Regions from separate parts of the Homo sapiens genome. Here region 2 is linked to region 1. A link means that fine-mapping ties the variant in region 1 to the expression of a gene that starts in the linked region. Tissue or cell type: lung. Region 1 holds a variant in brackets; the other region holds the start of a gene. All regions are shown on one strand. Distances are from middle to middle.

Region 1 (8,105 bases):
GTAGCGGCCGCAGCGGGACTGGGCATCAAGCTCCTGGGGCCGCCCCGGCGTCTGCCGGGTGGGTGCGAACGGTAGGCTCGCTCATCTCGCCTGGGTTTATCCACATGTTGTAACTGCAAATGAACGCTAAAAAAAAAAAAAAAAAAAAAAAATTAGCTGGGCGTGGTGGCGCCTGCCTGTAATTTCAGCTACTTGGGAGGCTGAGGCAGGAGAATTGCTTGAACCCAGGAGGCGGAGGTTGTGGTGAACCAAGATCGTGCCGTTGCACTCCAGAATGGGCAACAAGAGTGAAACTCCGTCTCAAAAAAAAAAAAAAAAGAAATGAAAATTGAGACATGATATGCTGGAAGATATAAGTGCCATTAACGAAATAGAGCGGAATAAGAGGGATCAGGAACGTTGGAGAGGGAGGATTGTAATGTTAAATAATTAGGATTTTGATGTAGAATTTTAATTTTATTTAGAATTATTATTTGTATTAGAGTAAGATAAAAATAATGAGATTAGAGTTAAATTGAATCCATGACTCTGAAAAGTCTCATTCAGCCAATGAAATGGTTAAATGTTTGCTTTGTTTTTGGCCCTGCTGACACCCTGCGGTCACTGAAGATGATACATTGCAGCCCTGGTGCCTAAATCCTCCATGTTAACCTTCATAAAAATAGTGGCCAGTGCCAAATCTCCAGGCAGAGAAATGCCTGATATATTTTGTTACTGATGGGAAGGAGGAATTTTTGGGGGGTTTCAAGTATAATGTTGCAGGAGTCAAACAGGAAGGTTTGAGAAGAAAGTTTTCACGCCCAGGGACAGTCAAACCATGACAGGTTGAATATGGAAATCAATGCCTATAATCAACTGGAACAAGTTAAATCTATATATACGCCCTGAATCCAGGATAATATAAAATAAAGAGATGTTAACATGAGATATGGTTAAAATATAGTTACAATGTAGAAGTAAATTATCAATATATGTTTATAAACATTTGAGAATATTATTTATTAAGTCAAATTATGAAAGTTCCACCTTAGAGCTATGGTCATGACTTGAGTAAACAATCACAATTATTACCATATAAGGAAGCACTGTCCAATAGAAATAAAAATGTGAGGCAGTGGTTCACGCCTGTAATCCCAGCACTTTGGGAGGCTGAGGCAGGCGGATCACGAGGTCAGGAGATTGAGACCATCCTGGCTAACACGGTGAAACCCCATCTCTACTAAAAATACAAAAATTAGCTGGGTGTGGTGGCAGGCGCCTGTAATCCCAGCTAGTTGGGAGGCTGAGGGAGAAGAATCGTTTGAATCTCATACTAGGTCTCCTCCTCCTCCTCCTCCTCCTCTTCTTCTTCCTCATACTAAGAATCACTTGAATCTCATAGTAGGTCTCCTCATCCTCCTCTTCCTCCTCCTCCTCTTTCCCCTTCTCCTTCTCTGTCTCCTTCTCCTCCTTCTTTTCTTCTTCAACAGGGTCTTGTTCTGTCACCCAGGCTGAAGTATACTGGCATAATCATAGCTTACTGCAGTCTTGAACTCCTGGGCTCAAACAATCCTCCCACCTCAGCCTCCTGAGTACCTGAGACTGCAGGAGCACAACAACATGCCCGGCTAATTTTTACATTTTTTGTAGAGACAAAGTCTCCCTATGTTGCCTAGGCTAGTCGTGAACTCCTGGCCTCAAGCAATCCTCCTGCCTTGGACTTCCAAAGCACTGGGATTATAGGTATAGGCCACCATGCCCGGCTTTGTACTAAGTCTTTGAAATCTGGTGTGTATTTTACTTTTTTTATTTTTTGAGACAGAGTTTCACTCTGCCACCCAGGCTGCAGTGCAGTGGTGTGGTCTCGGCTCACTGCAGCCTCCACCTTCTGGGTTCAAGTGATTCTCCTGCCTCAGCCTCCTGAGTAGCTGGGATTACAGGCGTGCACCACCATGCCCAGCTAATTTTTGTATTTTTAGTGGAGACGGGGTTTCACCATGTTGGCCAGGCTGGTCTCGAACTCCCCTCAGGTGATCCACCCGCCTCGGCCTCCCAAAGTGCGGGGATTACAGGCGTGAGCCACCATGCCCGGCCAGCTCTTCTCAGTTTGTATTAGCCATATTTCAATTTGTATTACTCATATTTCACTAAAACCGTGATACTGGCATAAAGACAGACATATTGCTATATGTGGCCACAGGTTACCATATTGGACAACGCAACCACAGGGCCTGAAAAATGAGTTGCTTGCCAGGCACGGTGGTGTGCACCTGTAGTCCCAGCCACCCAGGAGGCTGAGGTGGGAGAATCATTTGAGCCCAAGAGTTCGATGCTGCAATGAACTATGATGACACCACTGCACTCCAGCCTGGATGACAGAGGAAGACTCAATCCATGCTTATTGTGATAACAAATTCCCCATGTATCCAAGTTGTAAAGAAAGGTAAGATGTACCTAATGAAGGTGTGGGCTTCATAATAAATCACAGAAATATCTGTTTATAATGATAGCCAATATTTATTTAGCACTTTCTATGTACCAGGCACTGTACCACAAGCTTCACAAGGGTAATCTCATTTACGTTAATCCTCACAACACCTAATAAGAGAATAATAATGGCTGATATTTACATAACATTGTTCTAGACATTTTGCATATATTAACACATTTGATCCTCAGGGAACCCCATGATGTAGTTTCTACTAGTTTTCAATTTTAAAGATCTGAGACACAAAGAGTTTAACAGCCTTACCTAGTAAGTACAGAGCCAGCATCTGTGTACATGTATTTTAAAAATATACATTATTATTTTTCTAATCTTAGAAAGAGAAGAGTCATATTGAATGATTTGATTTCAAGTACATTGAGCAAATGAATCAAAGATCATTTTATTCTGTTGAATGATACATGGCCATAAAAGATGTTGTGACTATGCAGTACTTGTTAAATTTTATCTTTATCTTTGAATAAGATAAAGCAATCCTATCAAAACTCACTAAACTCTTTATGACCCCCAAAAGGCCTGTGGAACAAATAAACCCATGAGAGATGAGCCCTCTTTTCCGACGTAATAGCCTTGGGGGAGGTGGACCAGAAAGCTGCTGAGCCTGCTCTAATTGGCACAAACAGGGAAGGAAAAAATCTCATAAAACGTTGTCTTGGGCTTTTCAACTTTCTCTGGACAGGATTCCAGTACTATTAAGGCATATCTCAAAAGTGCCCCTAATTTCATGTCTGTGGCCAGTCATGACTATTTTAAGAACACCCTGAATTATAAGAATAGGTAATGGTGCCATCTCCTTCTATAGAAAAGCATTTTTAAAAGTTTTTGTTTTATAGAAATATCCATCCTAAAATTTATGTGAAATTTCAAGAGACCCTGAATGGTCAAAACAATCTTTAAAAAGAAAAACAAAGTTGTAGGTTTTACATTTTCTGATTTTGAAACTTTTAATGAAGCCAGAGTCACTAAAACAGTGTGCTCTTGGCATAAAGACAGACATATAGACCAATGGAGTAGAAATAGAGCCCAGAAATAAACCCTCCTATATATGATCAAATGACTTTTGGCAAGGGTGCCAGGTATATTCAACTGGGAAAGGACAGTCTTTTCAAGAAATAGTTTTGGGAAAACTGGATATCCACATATAAATGAATAAAGTTAAAACCCTACCTTATACCATATACAGTAATTAATTCGAAGACCTAAAATAATTAGATCAAAGACCTCAAATAAGAGCTAAAACTATAAAACTTTTAAAAGAAAACATAACGTTGTTTATAACGATTGTTCATAACGTTGGATTTAGCAGTGATTTCTTGAATATGACACCAAAAGCACAGGCAACAAAAGTGAAAATAGATAAAACTATGCTCTAGGCTGGGCGCTGTGGCTCACGCCTGTAATCCCAGCAATTTGGGAGGCCGAGGCGGGCGGATCACCTGAGGTTGGGAGTTCAAGACCAGCCTGACCAACATAGAGAAACCCTGTCTCTGCTAAAAATACAAAATTTAGCCAGGTGTGGTGGTGGGCGCCTGTAATCCCAGTTACTCAGGAGGCTGAGATGGGAGAATCGCTTGAGCCTGGGAGGCGGAGGTTGCAGTGAGCTGAGATCGTGCCATTGCACTCCAGCC[C/T]GGGCAACAAGAGTGAAACTGTCTCAAAAAACAAACAAACAATGCTCTAAAGGACACAATCAGGGTAAAAAGGCAACCCACAGAATGAGAGAAAATAATTGCACTCCTATATCTGATAAGGGGTTAATATCCAGAATATACAGAGAGTTCTCACAGCAAAACAAACAACCCAATTAAAAATTGGGCAAATAAGCTGGGCACAGTGGCTCACGCCTGTAATTCCAGCACTTTGGGAGGTTGAGGCAGGAGGATCATGAGGTCAGGAGATCGAGACCATCCTGGCTAGCACAGTGAAACTTTGTCTCTACTAAAAATGCAAAAAAATTAACCAGGCATGGTGACGTGCACCTGTAATCCCAGCTACATGGGAGGCTGAGGCAGGAGAATTGCTTGAACTGGGAGGTGGAGGTTGCAGTGAGCTGAGATCACACCACTGCACTCCAGCCTGGGCAACAGAGCAAGACTCCGTCGCAAAAAAAAAAAACAAAAAAAACAAAAAGGGCAAAGAGCTTGAATAGTTATTTCTCCAAAGAAGATATGCACATGGCCAAAAAGCACATGCAAAGATGTTTGACATCACTAATCATTAGGGAAACGCAAATCAAAACAACGAGCTACAATCTCATACGCATTAGGATGGCCACTATCAAAAATATGAAGAAAATAACAAGTTTTGGTGAGGATGTGGAGAAATCAGAATCCTTGTGTACTGTTGATGGGAATGAAAAATGGTGCAGCTGTTGGCTGGGCGCGGTGGCTCACACCTGTAATTCCGGCACTTTGGGAGGCCAAGGCGGGTGGATCACCTGAGGTCAGGAGTTTGAAACCAGCCTGGTCAACATGGTGAAACCCCATCTCTACTAAAAATACAAAAATTAGCTGGTCGTGGTGGCGGGTGCCTGTAATCCCAGCTACTCGGGAGGCTGAGGCAGGAGAATCACTTGAACCCGGGAGGCGGAGGTTGCAGTGAGCCAGCATCACGCCATTGTACTCCAGCCTGGGCAACAAGAGCAAAACTCTGTCTCAAAAAAAAAAAAAAAAAAAAAGAAAGAAAAGAAAAGAAAAGAGAGAAAAATGGTGCAGCTGCTATGGAAAACAGTATGGCAGTTCCTCAAAAAATTAAACATAAAATTTTCATATGATCCAGCACTGATACTTCTGGGTATATATCCAAAAGAATTGAAGGCAAGGTCTTGAAGAGTTATTTGTACACCCATGTTCAGAGCAGCATTATTCACAATAGCTGAAACATGGAAGCAACCCAAATGTCCATCAACAGATGAATGGATAAGCAAAATAGGATATATCCATACAATGGAATATTATTCCACCTTAAAAAGGAAGGAAATCCTGACATATGCTATACCATGGATGTAGCACCTTGACAACATTACGCTAAGCCAGTCACAAAAAGACAAATACTGTATGATTCCACCTATATCAGGTACTTAGTAGTCAAATTTATAGACAGAAAGTTGAATAGTGGTTGTTAGGGGCTGGGGAGAAGGGAAATGGGGAGTTGTTTAATGGGTATAGAGTTTTAGATTGCAAGATAAGAGTTTTGGAGATTGGTTGCACAACAATGCAGATGTACTTAACACTATTGAACTATATGCTTAAAAACGGACAGGTTGGTAAATTTTATTTTATGTATATTTTGCCACAATTAAAAAATGGTTTTGAATAATTTCACACTTAGAAAAGATTTGCAAGATTAGTACAGAGAATCCTGAAGAATCTCCACCAGAGGCATTTTATCATATTTGCCTCCTTATCTCTTTATTTCTCTCTCTCTCTTTCCATATATATATACACACACACACACACACACACACACACACACACACACACATAAATATACACGAATTTACACCTAGTAGTTTTAGCATCCATTAATGATTCTTGCCTGGATTATTACTATAATGGCCACCAAATAGAGATTTTCCTATGTCCATTGTTTCTTCTACATTTATTACTTGAATTCTATAGTAAAGTATCATTTCCTTTCCCGTATCCTCTTTTTTTTTTTTTTTTTTTTTTGAGACCAAGTCTTGCTCTGTTGCCCAGGCTGCAGTGTAGTGGCGAGATCTTGGCTCACTACAACCTCCGCCATCCAGATTCAAAAGATTCTCATGCCTCAGTCTCCTGAGTAGCTGCGACTACAGGTGCACGCTGCCACACCCAGCTAATTTTTGTAATTTTAGTAGAAATGGGATTTCACCATGCTGGCCAGGCTGGTCTCAAACTCCTGACCTTAAGTGATCTGCCTGCCTCAGCCTCCCAAAGTGCTGTGATTACAGGCATGAGCCACTGGACCTGGTCTCCTGTATCCTTTTTAATTAATTTTTTATTTATATTAGTGTGGGCTTAAGGATTCCCAATTTATTCAATAAGTTATAATTCCTTACAATCATAATTTACTTTGATGACTAGATTGTCCCTGATTTGGCCAGTGGGAGCCTCTTTACACTGGCTCCTGTGTTCTTTTGACATTTCTCATCTGTATTAGTTTGCTATGCCTGCTGTAACAGTGTACCACAAACTCGGTGGCTTAAAACAGCTGCAGTTCTCATGGTTCTGAAGTCCAGACATTCAAAATCAACTTCACTGGGCCCAAATCAGGAATATTAACACGGCCATGCTTCCTCTGGGCTCTAGGGGAGAATTCGTTCCTTGCCTCTCCCAGCTTCCAGCTGGCACTTGGCTTGTGGCTGCACCACTCCAGTCTCTGCCTCCTGCCTTCTCCTTTTGCGTAATCTCTCTCTGCCTCTCTCTTACAAGGATACTTGTGTTTGCATTTAAAGTCCACTTGAATAATCCAAGACAATCTCCCCATCTCAAGTTCCTTGATCATATCTCTAAAGATCCTTTTTCTGTATATGATAATATTTACAGATTCCAGAGATTAGAGCTTCAGGGGCCATTACTTAGCTTACTACATCCTCATTCTTTGAATACTTCCTTTCTTCCTGAACCAGTAAGATTTTTCACTGCCCTAGTCATGAAATCAGCCATTTCTCTAAGAACTTTTGGTTTCTTTTTAGTGAAGAATGATACTTGGAAGTCAAGATGTAGATGCTAGGTGCACTCATTGCTATGGGTGTGTCGGTCTTGCAAGTCCTTTCAGTAGGACAAGGAAACAAGATATCAACTAGGAAAAATATGTCTGGACACACACACACACAATCATACGTATGATGTACATTCCGAAGTACTGTAGTGGAGTTGGCTCATATGGACTTGCAAAAGCTGCTTGTTAAATATTCAGGAACTTTGCGGGTGGCTGTGAAACTAGTATTATTTCATGCTGGGAGTATTTACACCGTGGAAATCAGCAAATGCTACAAATTAGTGTGTTTTGAAAAACCAAAAAGCCACTATACATATCATAAACACACACATCTACTCTTCTGTCTCTCTTTGTATATCATATATAATATTCACACACACACACACCCTATAGGCTCACACCTCTGACTCTAATTACAGGGTTTGTTCTAGTCTTTCCCCTTTTCATACTTATTGTCTCCAAGAGTAAGAAACCTGGCTCTCACTATTCTCAATATATTTTCTTATTTGCTCAATCTCCTGACCACATGGGCCATCTCCTTGGCCCCATTCTTACTGACCCTGACCTTGAGCTGCAGGCTTTGCCATGACCCTGCCATTCCTGACCATGAGAACCATTTATTTGGCTCTGAACCTAGTTGTCCTGACCTTGTAAGCTACTACCTCAGCCCCAGACCTGCCAGCCCAGATCACCAGAGTCTCCTTGGCCCAGGCTCCACCAGCCCTAAACTCACTTAAACAACTCTTGGCCCCAGCCCTACACATTTTCTTGTTTGTCTATTCTTCCAATTAAAAACGCCCACTTCGTCATTGTTTTTAACTGCCTGATGTTGAGTGGTCAATTTGATTTTTTCACATGGTTGGGTTAAAGACAGGGTTGCCAGATAAAATACAGGATGACCAGTTAAGTTGAATATGGGACA
Region 2 (8,105 bases), 120 kb after region 1:
TTTATCTTTCAAATTCAGTCATTTTATTTATTTTTATAGAGATGAAGTCTCACTGTGTTGCCTAGGCTGGTCTCGAACTCCTGCACTCAAGCAATTATCCCACCTTGGCCTCCCAAAGAACTGAGATTACAGGTGTGAGCCAGCACACCCTGCCAGTCTTTCTCCTTTAGCAAAATCCTGCCAACAGCCTGTTTTGAGGTTCCCATTTTTAGACTCCACACAGGCCAGCCCTTCTATTAGTACTGTCTTTCTGAAAAGAGAAACAAGTGATTATTCACTTTCCATAATTCACTAGTTCTCCACTGCCACCACATTAGTCTGCACTACCATCTCTCACCTGGATTCTTTTTTCTTTTTTTCTGATATCCTTGGCAACTGCTAAATCACCTGGATTCTTGAAATGGCCTCCTAACTGCACTCCCTCCTTCCATTCCCCATTAAATTTATTCTCCACGTTGTAATGAGAAGGATTGTCTGCTCAAAACTCTGCAATGCTCTGCTCAAAATCCTGCAATGGCTTATTCTTTCATTCTAAGTAAAAGTCTTTTAACTAAAAGACTGCATGATGGCATGGATCTGCACTCCCCCTCTTCCTTACTCTTTCCACAGCCTCTTGCCATTCCTCAGATATGATAAGCATTGGCCAATCTCAGGGCCTTTGCACTTGCTCTTCACTCTGACTGGCAATTTCCTCAGATATCCACACAGCTTGTTCTCTTACTTTTTTTGGGGGACTCAAATGCCAGTTAATCTGAGAAGGCTTCCTTGACCAACTTATGTAAAGCAGCATCCCTCACACCAACATGCTGTATTGCCTTTTTGCTGCTTTTTCTTCATAGCACTTATCACCACTTCCACTTTTACTATTAAATATTTGCTTATTATTTATCAAACACTGCATCCACCCCAGCTAAGAATGTAAGCTCCAGGAGAGGGGCTTTGGTTCACTGCTATATCCCTGGCACCTGGAAATGCGTCTGGCATTTCGCAGACATTCAGTATTTATTGAATGAATGAATTCCAGTCAGTCTTGGCTTTTTGACACCTCGGCCTCCTACTCTCCTATCTCTTCAGACACATGGTGACAGATCAATGCTATGATGCCCCTCTCCCAAGCAGTAGCTAACCTTTATTGGGCACTCAGGGCCATCTACATTGCTAGGAGCTTTACATGAATTTTCTCATTTGATCCTAACAGTATGAGAAAGTAAGTACATACTATGTTATTCTCATTTTACTGATGAGGATCTGATGCACAGATTAAAGAACGTGCTAATACATGGTGCGGCCGTGGCTGGCAATCAAGCAGCTTGACTCTAAACCTGTGCCCTTAGCCACAAAGCTTGGGTGGTAGAAGCTCCTGTGAGGCTTTGGACTCACAGACAGCTGAAGTCAAGAGTGAAGAGGGCATAGCAATGATGGCCTGAGGGAGAGAAAATTTTGAAAAAGTGTTTACCCCTTATATATTTAAGTTGGTATCTAACTGGTTCCATCATAAATTCAAATAGTTGCAATGGATGTAAATTCTTGCAAATTGTAAATACTGACATTTTAAGATAAAACTGTTAAATCACTCTTTATAATGTATCCAAGAGAATCTACATAACAACTGAATAACCACCATTATGCATTAAAACATACACTAATGAGCTCTTCAACATTGTTCTTTTATTATCTCTAACATATTTAGATTGTACTCTAACAAAAAATGTTATTCAAATATAGTACTTTGATGTTTGAACAACCTTTTCTTGATCACTTCTTCGCAATAAAAATATGACATATGTAGTAAACCTTAAAAAATTTCGTGTAACTTTATGGCTCTACGCTGGAATTCTTCTGAAGTGAGTAATCATCACAATCATCTTTAGTATATAATGGATCAAAATGACACGATTGCAAATATTGATAACACACAGTTATAAAAGGTGAAATTCTATTGGGAACACATCTCTTAGTGAGATAGATGGGGCTGACCCACCAATTAATTCATTTATCTGGATGAATAGTTCCTACTGGTAGATTAACAGGGTTCATTTTCAATTCTGTTGTTTTCACAGATACAAGTGCTGAGAAATGGTTTTACATAAATAGGTGAGAATGCTAGTAGTTTTGTTGTAAGCATGTCAATCAATCGTTTGGTTTCTTTCCGAGTTGCATGCCAAAAACCAAATAGTGTTCCTTCATCAGCTGACAATTCATGGGCCACCATTAATTTTGTTGAAAGCAAAGAACTGGAAACCATCTGACTTGAAAAGAATTTGTTATCCTGTTATTAGAGTCATTCACTTTCTCTAGTGACTTTTAATTATACTAATTACTCTCAGAGGCATTTAGGCAGGGTTGAGAAATTCAAGATATTAATTTCAACACATCTTTAGCATCACAATATCACAGTAATTTAAATATATTTTAGTTGTAGCTATTTAGCTCACTTTATTGTAAATAATAATTATGCTAATTAGCAACGATAGTATGTTTAACCAATTAATCATCAGATTAACTTTCGGTCAGAATAATGGACTTCAATTTTTAAGTCAAAGCAATGTACAGGCGTCCCAGTCACCATATTTCACTTCTGAATTCCAAGAGAGAAATGGCGTTGCGCCTTACTGACGCAAATATGTACCTAGATAAAGTAAGACGCTTTCATTTCAGGTATGTCTAACCCACGCTATCCTTGCTTTGTTCCAGGGCACTCTCGCAGGGAAAACGCCGCCTCTGACTACACTTGGGGTGGTTAAGACGAGATCTTCAAATGAAAATTCTCAACGCTACCGTCCACTCTCTCATACGCTTGAATTCCGAACACCCCAATACTGGCCAAAAGACTCCATTTCTCATGCTTGGTCTTGCTTTTGAGGTAGCTCTAACTCAGAGGCACGATTTTTAGAGCCTGGGAAGTCGGCTGCTGTTCAGTCCTTCCTAGCCTCCTCAGGCGGGAGCCGCGGCCCACTCAGTCAGTTGCGGCCCACTCAGTCAGTTCCGGCCCCAGCCCCGACTACCTGTCGCCTTGTTGGGGGAAGGAAGGCAGATACCGCAGCCCAGTCAGGGTAAGCCGCTGACCCAGAGGATGGAACTGCGGCTCTGGAGATTAGAAAGAGGAGGACTTCGCCGCGTTCACTAGCCCAGGAGGAAAGCCAGAACCCTAGGCCGGAACCCAGCGTCAAGACGTGGGGGAAGAATGTTGATGCAACACAGCTCAGCCGGGCCCGGAACTCGGCGTTTGGGTCCCCGCCCTCTTTGGGCCGGAAGTGAGGAAGGTGGGGCTGGGGCTTTTCCTGTAGAAACTAGGAGGGACTAGGGAGAGTCTGCAAGGGGAAGAGTGTGTCTGTGACACTGCCAGCAGCGCGCAGAGGGAGGGATGGGGGCGGGTATCGGCGTAGGGGCCCTCGGAAAGAACGGATATTGCTGTGACACCGCGGGGACGCTCTGAAGGGACGAGTGTCGGTGTGGCACCGGTGCACGCTGAAGGAGCCGGCGGAACCGGGTGGCCATGGGGATGTGGGCATCGCTGGACGCTTTGTGGGAGATGCCGGCCGAGAAGCGTATCTTCGGGGCCGTGCTGCTCTTTTCCTGGACAGTGTATCTTTGGGAGACCTTCCTAGCACAGCGGCAGGTGAGCCTAGACAGGGTCCAACCTGACCCCCATACCCGGCCAGCCCTGGAGTAGCCTTGGCTTCGACCCTGAGACTCTTGATTGCTTCGGTCCCCGCGCCAGTCTCGTCTTTGTGGTCCCTGCTGAGTCTCGTAACTTGGCCCGATGGCGGACTGTGGCTTTGAGGAGGGTCTTGGTGCGTCAAGGAAGTTTTCTGTAACGTTATCATGGGACCCAATCCCTTTAGGGCCTGGAGGAAGGCTTGGGCTCTTGTGCCCTCCCTGCAGCTTCCTTGGGATCCTTGGGCCCAGACTTGGCCTCCTTTATCTTTGGAATAAGCCTTTAAAAGGATTTAGACACCCAACTTCCTCATGACATTTATGTAATCATGCCTAACCATAGGATTTTGCAGTCCTTCCAAGAACTTGCACTCTTGTTTCTCCTTAAAGTGCATATATTGTTTCTGCTTGAAAAAACAAACAAACAAACAAAAAACTTATCGGGCCCGGCGTGGTGTCTCATGCCTGTAATCCCAGCACTTTGGGAGGCCGAGGCGGGCGGATCACCTGGGGTCAGGAGTTCGAGACCAGCCTGACCAACGTGGCGAAAACCCGTCTCTACTAAAAATAGAAAAATTAGCCGGGTGTGGTGGCGCGCACCTGTAGTCCCAGCTACTTGGGAGGCTGAGGCAGGAGAATCATTTGAACCCAGTAGGCGGAGGTTGCAGTGAGCTGAGATTGTGCCACTGCACTCCAGCCTGGGCGACAAGAGTGAAACTCAATCTCAAAATAAATAAATAAATGAAATTAAATGAAATATATTTCTCGTTTTTCATAAAATCAACATTATTTTAGTTTAAATATTAAAATGGTAAAATAAAAAGTGAAAGTTAACAATTTACCTGAGATAACCATGGTTTAGAGATCTGAACTTTTATTTATTTATTTTTAATCTTTATTTATTTATTTAATTTTAGAGTCTAGCTCTGTCACCAGGCTGGAGTACAGTGGCGTTATCTCGGCTCACTGCAAGAAACTAGGAGGGACGAGGGAGAGTCTGCAAGGGGAAGAGTGTGTCTGTGACACTGCCAGCAGCGCGCAGAGGGAGGGATGTTCAAATGATTCTCCTGCCTCAGCATCCCGAGTAGCTAGGATTACAGGCACGTGCCACCACGCCCAGCTAATTTTAGTATTTTTAGTAGAGACGGGGTTTCACCATCTTGGCCAGGATAGAATATTTATTGTATTTAGAGACAGGGGCTCACTCTGCCACCCAGACTGGAGCACAGTAGCATCATCATAGCTCAAGGCAGCCTCGAACTCGTGGGCTCAAACGACCCCTCCACCTCCACCTCAGCCTTCTGAGTTGCTAGGACCACAGGTGCGGATCACTGTGCCTGGCTAATTGTTTGATTTTTTTGTAGAGATGTTGCCCGGGGTGGTCTGGAGTTCCTGGACTCAAGTCATCTTGCCGCCTCCACCTCCCAAAGGGCTGGGATTACAGGCATGAGCCACCGTGCTCGATCTCCCCTCAGCTTTTATTGGCACACAACAATATATAGGGAAAGCATGTTGTAGTGGCCCATTATTTTGTTTGGTATCCATTCTCTGTATTACATTTCCTGGACTGAAATTACCCTTACCTTTTATAATTTAGTATAATGAGATAGTTGATCTTTCTCCTTTTTTTTTTTTTTTTTTTTTTTTAAGGAGATAGATTCTCTGTCACCCAGGGTGTAGTGCTGTGGCACAATATGGGCTTACTGCAACCTCTGCCTCCCAGGCTCAAGTGATCCTCCCACCTCAGCCCCCCAAATAGCTGGGACCACAGGTGCATACCACCACACTCTGCTAATTTTTGTATTTTTTGTAGAGACGGGATTTCACCACATTGCTCAGGCCAGTCTTGAACTCCTGGGCTCAAGGAATCCTTCTGCCCCTGTCTTCCAAACTGCTGGGATTACAGGCGTGACCCACCGTGCCCGGCTGAAAATTGGTCTTTTCTCACAGACCTGATATGTTTCCATCTGGTGATCCTCAAGTTTCTGGCATTTAGGACCAAATTTAATGAGCAGCCTCAGTATCTGTTCATACTCACAGTTAGCATGTGTGCTTCTCCTTTGCATGAATTTGTTTTCCGTATTATAGGAGGTATGTAATACCCAGAATGAGTAGTACATGTAACAAAGTTGTGATGTTAACAGCTTTGGTTTACATATACAAACTGAAGTGTGATGACAACCCTGATTATAGTTTTACCAGTCAGGTCACCTCAGGTTCTCTTGTTCTGCTTTTATTTTCCTGCATCAGTCGTTTCATGTACTTGATCAAGTGCAATATTTGTGTAGGTATAAAGCAAATTCAACAGATATAAGTGGCAAGCTATAAACCATTCGATGTTTGATCATAAATGACTATTGTAATAAACAACTATTTCACTAAAGTGTTTTCTTTAAAATATTTCAGAGAAGGATATATAAAACAACAACTCATGTACCACCGGAGTTAGGACAGATCATGGATTCTGAAACATTTGAGAAATCTCGACTCTATCAACTGGATAAAAGCACTTTCAGCTTCTGGTCAGGACTCTATTCAGAGACTGAAGGCACTGTGAGTAATTTACTTCTTGGAGAGACAGTCTGTCTGGTTGTTTTCATTTTCATATTTTTGTAACACAAAAGAGGGTACCACACTTACAAGTCCCAGAATGCTTTCTTAACCTTTGTTATTGATAGTAACGGCTGTGGAGCAAAAAAGACAGAAACATAACTGCTTAGTCAGTTGAAAACTATAGAATATGGGAACTATTACCCTGAAGCCAGGTAGGAAAAAGATCCTCTTCCATTAGGATCCAGCTGAGATGTCATGTCTTCTAAGCAACCATTTGAAACTCCCTGCCTGACGAATGTGGATAGGGTAGCATTCTATCATTATTCCTGTCAGAGTACTTATCTCATTATGTTGAATTTGCCTGGATTTTTTTTTTTTTCTTCTGGCACAGTCTTGCTCTGTCACCCAGGCTGAAGTACAGTGGCGTGATCTTGGCTCACTGCAACCTCTGCTTCCTAGGCGCAAATGATCCTCCCACCTCAGCCTCCCGAGTAGTTGGGACTACAGTTGCATGCCACCATACCGTCTCAGAGTGCTGGGATTATAGGCATGAGCCACACTGTACCTGGCCTGATTTGACTGTTTAATTGGCAGACTGGTAGTTCCTTAAAGAAATAGTTAAGTCTTGTTCATCATTTTATACCTAGTGCCTGGCATGTAATCAGCATATAGTTCCTATTTATTGAATGAAATAATGTGGGGTTTTTTTGTTGCTTTTTTTGTTTTGTTTTGTTTTTGTTTTTGAGCAGTGTCTTGCTCTGTCGCCCAGGCTGGAGTGCAGTCGCACGATCTTGGCTCACTGCAATCTCCACCTCCCGGGTTCAAGCGATTCTCCTACCTTAGGCTCCTGAGTAGCTGGGACTACAGGCGCGTGCCACCACACCTGGCTAATTTTTTGTATTTTTAGTAGAGACGGGGTTTCACCATGTTAGCCAGGATGGTCTCGATCTCTTGACCTCGTGATCTGCCTGCCTTGGCCTCCCAAAGTACTGGGATTACAGTCATGAGCCACTGTGCCCTGCCACTTTTATTTTTATCATCCTGATCATCATCATCATCATTTCTCTAGAACTTTTAGATCTACTAGTACCACTAAGAGAAAGATTCCTAAATTTAAAAGAATTATGATCAGCTACCATCATTGTTTCATGAGTTAAAGAAACTGGCTTTATGTAGCTGTGGTAAATGACAGAATTGTCTAGCTCATCACAAAATTTTTCTTAACAAGTATGGAATAATAAGACTAGTGTGGTTAGATCCAAATTATTAGAAACTGCACTTATTTCTTCAAGGTGATGGAAAATGGCAATGCTTCTAGAAGAGTTAAATTTTGGTATTTAGAAAAATTAATAAATGATTTGGAAAACAAAGTCTCATTGGCTTTGGGGATACACAGCTATTGCTATTAAGTAATCTTTTCAATAAAGACTTGGCTTTAGTTAATTTATCTGAGCATTGCTTCTGTTAGGGACATGTCACAAGTAGGAAATCATCCTTCAGAGACAGATGGAAGTAGAAGTGGTTAATTTAGACACTATTCTTTTTTTTTTTTTTTTAAATAGATGAAAGAGAGTTTACTTATGTATTTATATAATGGCCTTGGTCCAAAAAAGACTAAAGGGAGCTCAAAAAAGAATTATAGTAACTTTAAAAAATACATTAAACATATCCAAGATCTTAAATGTATCATTCTCCCCAAAAGCTAGTTGCTTCCAAACTTGACTTAATATTTTGCATGTTTTCCCTCCATTGCTTGGTAAGTGTATTTGCCTCTTCTTTCTGCAGTTGATGTCTGACGGCTGAGTTTTGCTGTTTTGTCAACTGACATTTCCCCTTCTGTTTCACCAGTTCCAGAGAATTGTTGAACAACTTAACAACACTACCTGAAGAAGTAA

Evidence for each region. PIP is the estimated chance that this variant, and not a neighbour inherited with it, causes the effect.
Region 2: it holds the start of ZMPSTE24, and the variant in region 1 is fine-mapped to the expression of ZMPSTE24 in lung (TOPMed, PIP 0.96).

What each region holds. Positions count from the first base shown.
Region 1 is chr1:40,133,449-40,141,553 of GRCh38, forward strand. It overlaps the pseudogene OAZ1P1. Among named protein-coding and RNA genes, the nearest start is that of RLF, 24 kb to the right of the region's middle. The variant C/T (reference allele first, on the strand shown) is at 4,114.
Region 2 is chr1:40,254,776-40,262,880 of GRCh38, forward strand. It overlaps ZMPSTE24 (zinc metallopeptidase STE24), which reads left to right and starts at 3,461. Exons shown (of 10, transcript NM_005857.5): 1 at 3,461-3,619; 2 at 6,064-6,210. The coding sequence starts at 3,497. RefSeq lists enhancers at 2,692-2,821, 3,052-3,321, 3,402-3,681, 3,772-3,871.